Linked DNA regions of Homo sapiens. The protein of the gene in region 1 interacts with the protein of each later gene in a biochemical or structural test. Each region holds a gene or a part of one and is shown on either strand. Other genes may lie near its edges.

Region 1 (4,265 bases):
CAGGCTGGAGTGCAGTGGCGCAATCTCAGCTCACTGCAACCTCTGCCTTCCAGGCTCAAGCAATCCTCCCACCTCAGCCTCCCGAGTAGCTGGGACTACAGGCACGCACCACCATGCCCAGCTCATTTTTGTATTTTTAGTAGAGACAGGGTTTGTTATGTTGCCCAGGCTGGTCTCAAACTCTTGACCTCAAGCAATCCACCCGCCTCGCTTCCCAAAGTCCTGGCATTACAGGTGTGAGCCACCACGTCTGGCCATATTCTTGTTTTTAACAATCCCTAAACACAAGCTCACAAGTTAAATCTGCTACCCACCTGAAGAAACTGTGATGTGTCCCAATGCCAGAGGAAATGCCAGGAGTTATGGGCTTTCCTGAGTTAAGTCTTTTAGGAAGCATTGGAATTTTATGGGAATTGTACCTGCAGGGAGACCGCACCCAGTTGGCCAGCCACCCATGGGACTGGACCATGCTTCTCTGAGTGTTAACAACACGCTTGGCCCCTCCCTTGAATGTCACCTCCCCATGAGCAGGAACAGCTCCACAGCATTCCCCCACCACCACACACAGAGTAGAGCTCCTTAATTCCCCACTGGGGGTTCCACTGAGAATGGGAATGCCATCTTGGATCTCTTGGCCCTACTGCCTTACCCTGTGTCCTCCTGGATGGAACACTGCCCTCGCCACCTCTGTGTCACACTCACACACACTCACACTCACACGTGGACTCCCTGAGCTAAGGGCTCAGTTGTGGTGAGAGAGAGGAGGCAAAACAAGTGAGACTGAAGCCTGAGGAAATTGCTCTCATAGTTTATTTCTCAGAGCCCAGAAGCCTGAGCCAGGGTAGGGCACACACTAGGACTCTGTCCTGGGTACAAGATTCCGCAAAAAATCCTTGATTCTCTGGACAATTCTTTTAAACTCTTTGCCAATCTTCTCTTTAGATTTCCGGAAGAAATCACCCAGCAGGGCAAATCTCTTGTTATCCTGGGGTTGTGTACAGGAAGAAACAGGTTCCTTGTCGGGGATGTACCCAGGGTCAATCCAAGACCCCTCCCCACCTAGACGCCCCTCTTCGTGGGCCCCCGCAGGAGCTTTGGGGCCCCAGTTCAACCTCTGGCTGTGACCTTTGAAGCATGTGATTGAATCCCTACACCCAATAAAAAGATGAGAAAACAGAGTCCCGGAGATAGTGAGGGGCTCTGCAGGGTCACACAGCCCAGCCCAGCAACACTGAGATGGGAACACAGGGCTGAGAGCTGAGTACTCTTAGACAGTGGCTCTCAAACTTTACAGAAGCCGGAATCTCCTGGAAAGCTTATCAAAATACGAATTTCTGGGCCCTACCCAGAGTCTGTCTGAGTAGGTCTGAGTAGGGCCTGAGAATTTGCATATCTAACGAGTCCCCAGGAAGGGCTACACTTGGAGATCTACCGCTCTAAGGGATTCCAGAGCCGGCCCTGGAGATGGAACTCAGGTTTGGGGAAGAGCCCTGGGTAGGAGGGGCTTTCTCTGTCCTGGGTTGGGGGAGTAGTTAATTGACCCATTGGATGGTCCACACTCTATGCCCCCATCAGCCCCTGCATCCCAGAACAGCCCACTCACCTTATCACAACTGATGTCAAAGGAGCCCCTGGCCTGGTTGAGGGTCACTGTCCCCATACACCGCTTCACCAGCTGGAAAGGAGAAGCTCAAGGTCAAACTTGAAACCATTTGCCATGACCTCCCAGCCACATCCCAGTGGGAAATATTCCCCAGGTGCCCCCTGTTCAGCTCCTTGGGAGGCACCCACCAACACCCCCAGCCCCCAGCCTCACCCCGTCCTTCTTGAAGTCACAATCCTCTGGTGACTGCTGTGTCGTCCTGGGGCACACTGTCTCCTTCACTGTGAAGCTCACAGGCTTTGGCGTGTCTGGGTCCCCATCCTAGTCAGAGGAGGAAATGGGGAGGCCCATTCTTGTATTTTCTGATTTGTGTCCATGACCTCCCCACCAAGAGGGCAGGCTTTCCACAGTACCTGATGTGCGACGGGCACTGGGTGCTGGGCTTGGCACTGGGGCATTGAGGGGAGGAGGACTGAGCCATTCCTACCCTCCTAGGTGAACAGTGAGTAGGAGCAGACCTCAGATGAGCTCTAACAAGGAGCCCCTCCCACTCTGGGGTGGGGGCAAGGGAAGTCAGGGGGCTTCCTGGGGGACAAGACATGCCCACTGGAACCTAAAGTCTGGATAGAGTTCTTCCCTATGTGGGGTAACGTGGTACAGAAGAGACTTAAAGCAGAGGAGGTCACTGCCCAGAGCCAATGACCCCATTCTAGTGCCTGGAGCTCGCAGAAGTCCCAAAACCTGCGTGGGGTCGGGGTGAGGGTATCTCTGCCACAGCAGGAATTATAAGGCAGGAAGCTCTCGAGCTGGGAGGAGACACGAGCTCTAGAAGGTTCCCTGGAAAACACGGGACCACATTTAAAGGGGGAGATGCCCTCCTGGCAGGCAGTGCAGCAGGAGCAGAAGGAACAACACGTGGCCAAGCCCAGCCAGAGCAGAGCAGAATGTCCCCCAAAGCTCACCATCGTGGGCCTGGGGTCCAGGTCCAGGAGGCGGTAGAGGTTAGCATCCGAGGACCGCTGGTTGATGCCATCTATAGCACGAAGCACAGCTTCCTTGTAGCTGAGGACCTGGGCAATGATGGCCAGAGGCATCACCAGGCCCAGCAGCAGGAGCACCAGTGACCACCGCCCCAGGGAGTGGCCATCCCTTTGGGTCTTCATGGTCCCCATGTCTGCCTCCCTCTAGCCCACAGGAGCCTCCTTTATGCCCAGCCTGAGCCTGATGCAAAAGCCCAACCAGGAGCCTTCCTGATCCACCCATCCCTGGCTGCCTGCCAGGGTGTGGGCTGGGGTTTGCTTTAGCCCCTGGCTATTGCTTCACAGGACTTGCTGGGCAGTGAGTGAGGCCTTCCTTGTGTGCAAGATGAGGAAGTGGTTTCTTCATCTCTGACAACCTCCCAGACCTGACCGGAGATTGTCATAGCCAGGGGTGCTCAAGAGCGTTAAATCCCTCCAGAGAGGAAGAGAGCCAGGTGCCTATTCTACATCCTTCTACTCCTCAGGAGTCAGTATGATGGACTGCTAAATCTCCAGCTCTAGGCATTGCCTGGCACCCTGTAGGCATCGATTAAGAATTGATGAATGAGGCAGGGCACGGTGGCTCACGCCTATAATCCCAGCACTTTGGGAGGCCAAGGTGGGCGGATCACCTGAGATAAGGAGTTCGAGACAAGCTTGGCCAACATGGTGAAACCCCATCTCTACTAAAAATATGAAAATTAGCCACGCATGATGGCTCACACCTGTAGTCCCAGCTACAAGCTGAGGCATGAGAATCACTTGAACCCATTGAACCCGGGAAGCAGAAGTTGCAGTTAGCTGAGATCATGCCACTGCACTCCAGCCTGGGTAACAGAGTGAGACTCAGTATGAAAAAAAAAAAAAAGAACTGGTAAATGAAGACAGTAGCCACCCCCAACCTAGAGACTCACTCTTGCAAGGGACAAGTTGCCCTTTCAGTTCAAGGCCATACCACATGCTCTCTGGACCCAGCCGTCAGCCAGACGAAGGCTCTGCTCCATCTATCCCCTTCTGCATCCTTCTTCACTGTTTTTTTCAGTCTCAAAATGTTCCCAAGCCCCTCCAGACATGGCCTTTCACCATGGCTTCTCCCAAGCCAAGTCTTAGGAAAGGTTGTCTACGCTTCTTGACCCCATCTTTTCACTCTTCTTCATGCTGAAGGCCACTGAAGGCTGGCCAACCCACCCTTGGTCCATGGCCACCCTCAAGCCTGGTCTTTGTCTGCACAGGCACTGGTGAGCCTTCCTTCTTGCTGCCCCGGTCTCCCCTGATGCCACTCTCCTGCTGTCCCTCCTGCCTCCCTGGTGGCTCCTTCTTGGTCTCCCCTAAGGGCTGTCTTCTTAATATTGAGAGCGTGTGGGGTCACCTCCTGGGCTGCTTCTCTTCCCTGGCCTCGGGTTTCCCTGGGGACGCCCTCTCCCAGGACACCAGTTATAATAGGCAGACACCACCCAGTCTGTATCTCTGAGTTCGAGACTCCCATGAACGTCCCGGTTGTCCCCACTGGGCCTCCTTGACTGCTCTTCTGCTGAGTGCCCACTGCATGAGCCCTGAAGCACCTTTGGCTCCTTCCTCCCGAAAGCACTCCCCTCTGGCCTCTCCTTCCACCCCTGCCTGGCTCCTGCCGCCATCTTCTCTCC
Region 2 (3,804 bases), on another chromosome or scaffold:
ATAAGTTGCAGGCTTGCAGAAATTGACCCATCCAGGTGAACAGCCTAGTGATCCCAGCAAGCGTCCTGCTGTGCAGCTATAAAAACATGACTCCTCCAGCAGCTCCAGGCAGCCACTACCAGTTAATTACAGATGGCCTAGGAGGCCAAACCTGGTTACTATCTCTGGTTTATTATGTGCCAGACACTTATGCTGTATATTTTGTTTAATCCTCTCAACAAACCTGCAAAAGTGGCATTAGTAACCCCTTTAAAGGCAAACGGTCAGAAGCCCAGAGAGGTTAAGTAACCTGAGGTCACACAGGCAGAAAGCAGCAAGACCGGGGTTCACACCCCTGTCTGTTCCGGTCCATGTGTGGTCTCACTCACTCTGCTGCCTCCTTGCCCCTCACCCACCAGGCCAGGATCAAGTCACTGTAGCGATGACTCCACGCTCCGAAGGCTCCAGTGTGAATCTGTCACCTCCATTGGAGCAGTGTGTCCCTGATCGGGGGCAGCAGTACCAGGGGCGCCTGGCGGTGACCACACATGGGCTCCCCTGCCTGGCCTGGGCCAGCGCACAGGCCAAGGCCCTGAGCAAGCACCAGGACTTCAACTCAGCTGTGCAGCTGGTGGAGAACTTCTGCCGCAACCCAGACGGGGATGAGGAGGGCGTGTGGTGCTATGTGGCCGGGAAGCCTGGCGACTTTGGGTACTGCGACCTCAACTATTGTGGTGAGCTGCCTGGGTAGGGGGCCTGAGTTGCAGGGACAAATCCTGGTGGGAATAACAACAGCCGCTTCTGCTTATCGAACGCTTACCTCATTGAGTGCGCTCATTACAGCCTTACAGTAACCAGGTGGGGGGTAAGGTCCTGTGCCCATTTCACAGATAAGTACACTGAGGCCCCAGGAGGTTATTGCCTAGTAGCCCAACTGTGCATGCACGCTTAACCTCTGCACCAAATGGCCTCCAAGGCCCGTAGGGGAATTGGGGGGATCTAGGGGATGGGTGAGGAATGGCCCAGCCCAGTCCCAGCCGGTGCCTGGGTCCCAACAGAGGAGGCCGTGGAGGAGGAGACAGGAGATGGGCTGGATGAGGACTCAGACAGGGCCATCGAAGGGCGTACCGCCACCAGTGAGTACCAGACTTTCTTCAATCCGAGGACCTTTGGCTCGGGAGAGGCAGGTGAGGTAGTGGGCATCCGAGGGGATGCGGGGCTGCGGGGCTGGTGGCCAGGACTTGCCCCTCACTGCTTGGCTTGCTCTGCAGACTGTGGGCTGCGACCTCTGTTCGAGAAGAAGTCGCTGGAGGACAAAACCGAAAGAGAGCTCCTGGAATCCTACATCGACGGGCGCATTGTGGAGGGCTCGGATGCAGAGATCGGCATGTCACCTTGGTGTGTCCTGGAGCCCTGCGCTACCATTCACTCCTGGGGGCAGGTGTGCTGCTGGACCCCCACCCTCAGGCCCTGCCTGCAGGCCTGGGCTTTACAGATGACAACAGCTGAGCATCCAGGATCCCACCAACTCCACACAGCAGCCACATGAGATGGGTTGTTTACTTCTTTTTTTTTGTTTCTTAGATGGAGTCTTGCTCTGTCACCTAGGCTGGAGTGCAGTGCTGCAATCTCGGCTCACTACCTCGATCTCAGCTCACTGCAACTTCTGCCTTCCGGGTTCAAACGATTCTCTTGCCTCAGCCTCCTGAGTAGCTGAATTTACAGACATGCGCCACCACACCCGGCTAATTTTTGTATTTTAAGTAGAGACAGGGTTTCACCATGTTGGCCAGGCTGGTCTTGAACTCCTGACCTCAAGTGATCCACCTGCCTCAGCCTCCCAAAGTGCCGGGATTACAGGCATGAGCCACCACACCCGGCCCATGGGTCCTTTACTTCTAAGCAGATGGTAAAGCTGAGACTGACGGAGCTGGTGGCTCACCTCCGCGCACAGCTAATGGGTTTGAATCCAGTTCTTCTGATTCCAGAGCTGTGCTACGCTATGTGAACTCTGGACTGGAAGGACCTAGTTAGGGGGTGCAAAAAGCAGGAGGCAGGTCAGGTGCAGTGGCTCACCCCTGTAATCCCAGCACTTTGGGAGGCCAAGACAGGAAGATCACTTGAGGGCAGGAGTTCGAGGCCAGCCTGGGCAAAATGGTAAAACCCCGTCTCTACTAAAAATGCAAAAATTAGCCAGGTGTAGCAGCATGTCCCTGTAGTCCCAGCTACTAAGGAGGCTGAGGCGGGAGGATCGCCTGAGCCCAGGAGGCTGAGGCTTCAGTAAGCTGTGACTGTACCATTGCACTCCAGCCTGGGTGACAAGAGTGAGACCCTGTCTCAAAAATAAATAAATAAATAAATAAAAAAGTGTGAGGCAGCCCCTCAGCATCACACGGAGGCTCCAGGCCCCAAAGGCGGCCAGCCCAAGCTTGGATCTGGGCCCCGGAGGCAGCTCTGCCCAGCTGGGTTCTTAGACCTGGGATTGTTACTTCTAGGGCTGGTGTAGAGGCAGCCCCCTCATCCTCAGCTCCTAATGCTTCCTGCTGCCCCTCCCAGGCAGGTGATGCTTTTCCGGAAGAGTCCCCAGGAGCTGCTGTGTGGGGCCAGCCTCATCAGTGACCGCTGGGTCCTCACCGCCGCCCACTGCCTCCTGTACCCGCCCTGGGACAAGAACTTCACCGAGAATGACCTTCTGGTGCGCATTGGCAAGCACTCCCGCACCAGGTACAGAACTGGTGGCCCGTGGGTGTCTGGCAGGGGTCTGAGTCCTCCAAAGCGATCATGAGGGGCCCTGGTGGCTCCGGGACACATAGGATGTTCTGTATACCCCCCAGAATATAACATCCCAGCAGTCTCTGCTGGAAAGCCCATTTGGTCACGTCCTGACTGAGGCTTGGAGCTGCGGGGAGAAATCCGTCTGTCTCCTGGTCCCTCCAACACTAGGATATAGCCCATGTGGGAGTCTCTGAAAATAGAGTCTGTCTGGACTAGGGCGTGCAGCCTGTGCCCCTGTCCCCGTCCTCCAGGCTGTCTGACTCCAAAGCCCTGCACGGCTTTAGGCCCAGGAAGAAACACCCAGGGGGCTGCCATGGCAGGAACCAGCCCTATCCCCTCCCTGGTGGCCTGCAGGACACACTGTCTCCCAGACCCCAAGGGCAGGCAGTTTCCTGCTCCTTGCTGGGTGAACCTGCAGCTTCTCCATTTCTTTCTTGGGGTCTCTGCAGGTACGAGCGAAACATTGAAAAGATATCCATGTTGGAAAAGATCTACATCCACCCCAGGTACAACTGGCGGGAGAACCTGGACCGGGACATTGCCCTGATGAAGCTGAAGAAGCCTGTTGCCTTCAGTGACTACATTCACCCTGTGTGTCTGCCCGACAGGGAGACGGCAGCCAGGTGGGCCACCAGATGCTTGTTAGCTGAGGGGCAGAAGCCAAGTTCTGGGCCTGGCTCTGATACCAAGTAGCCTTGCAAGAGCCCCTTTCCCTTTTCCAGGCCTCGGTTTCTTGGAGTGAACCCAAAAGTTCTTTTCAGTACTGGCGTTTTATTTTTTATTTATATTTATTTATTTACTGACGGAGTTCCACTCTTGTCTCCCAGGCTGGAGTGTAGTTGTGCGATCTTGGCTCACTGCAACCCCACCTCCTGGGTTCAAGCGACTCTCCTGCCTCAGTCTCCTGAGTAGCTGGGATTACAGGCTAATTTTTGTATTTTTAGTAGAGACTGGTGGGTTTCACCGTGTCGGCCAGGTTGGTCTCGAACCCCTGACCTCAAGTGATTCACCCGCCTCGGCCTCCCAAAGTGCCGAGACCACAGGCGTGAA

Evidence for each region.
Region 2: the proteins of CAMP (region 1) and F2 interact in a test that uses a peptide from one of them, tested with the Homo sapiens proteins (one study listed by BioGRID).

What each region holds. Positions count from the first base shown.
Region 1 is NC_000003.12:48,222,013-48,226,277, reverse strand, and holds CAMP (cathelicidin antimicrobial peptide preproprotein), read right to left. Parts: upstream 2,784-4,265; 5' UTR 2,767-2,783; coding exon 2,566-2,766; intron 1,925-2,565; coding exon 1,817-1,924; intron 1,676-1,816; coding exon 1,604-1,675; intron 986-1,603; coding exon 854-985; 3' UTR 793-853; downstream 1-792. UniProt on the Homo sapiens protein: Antimicrobial protein that is an integral component of the innate immune system. Binds to bacterial lipopolysaccharides (LPS). Acts via neutrophil N-formyl peptide receptors to enhance the release of CXCL2.
Region 2 is NC_000011.10:46,725,461-46,729,264, forward strand, and holds part of F2 (prothrombin preproprotein), read left to right. Parts: intron 1-398; coding exon 399-713; intron 714-1,037; coding exon 1,038-1,166; intron 1,167-1,250; coding exon 1,251-1,377; intron 1,378-2,535; coding exon 2,536-2,703; intron 2,704-3,203; coding exon 3,204-3,377; intron 3,378-3,804. UniProt on the Homo sapiens protein: Thrombin, which cleaves bonds after Arg and Lys, converts fibrinogen to fibrin and activates factors V, VII, VIII, XIII, and, in complex with thrombomodulin, protein C. Functions in blood homeostasis, inflammation and wound healing.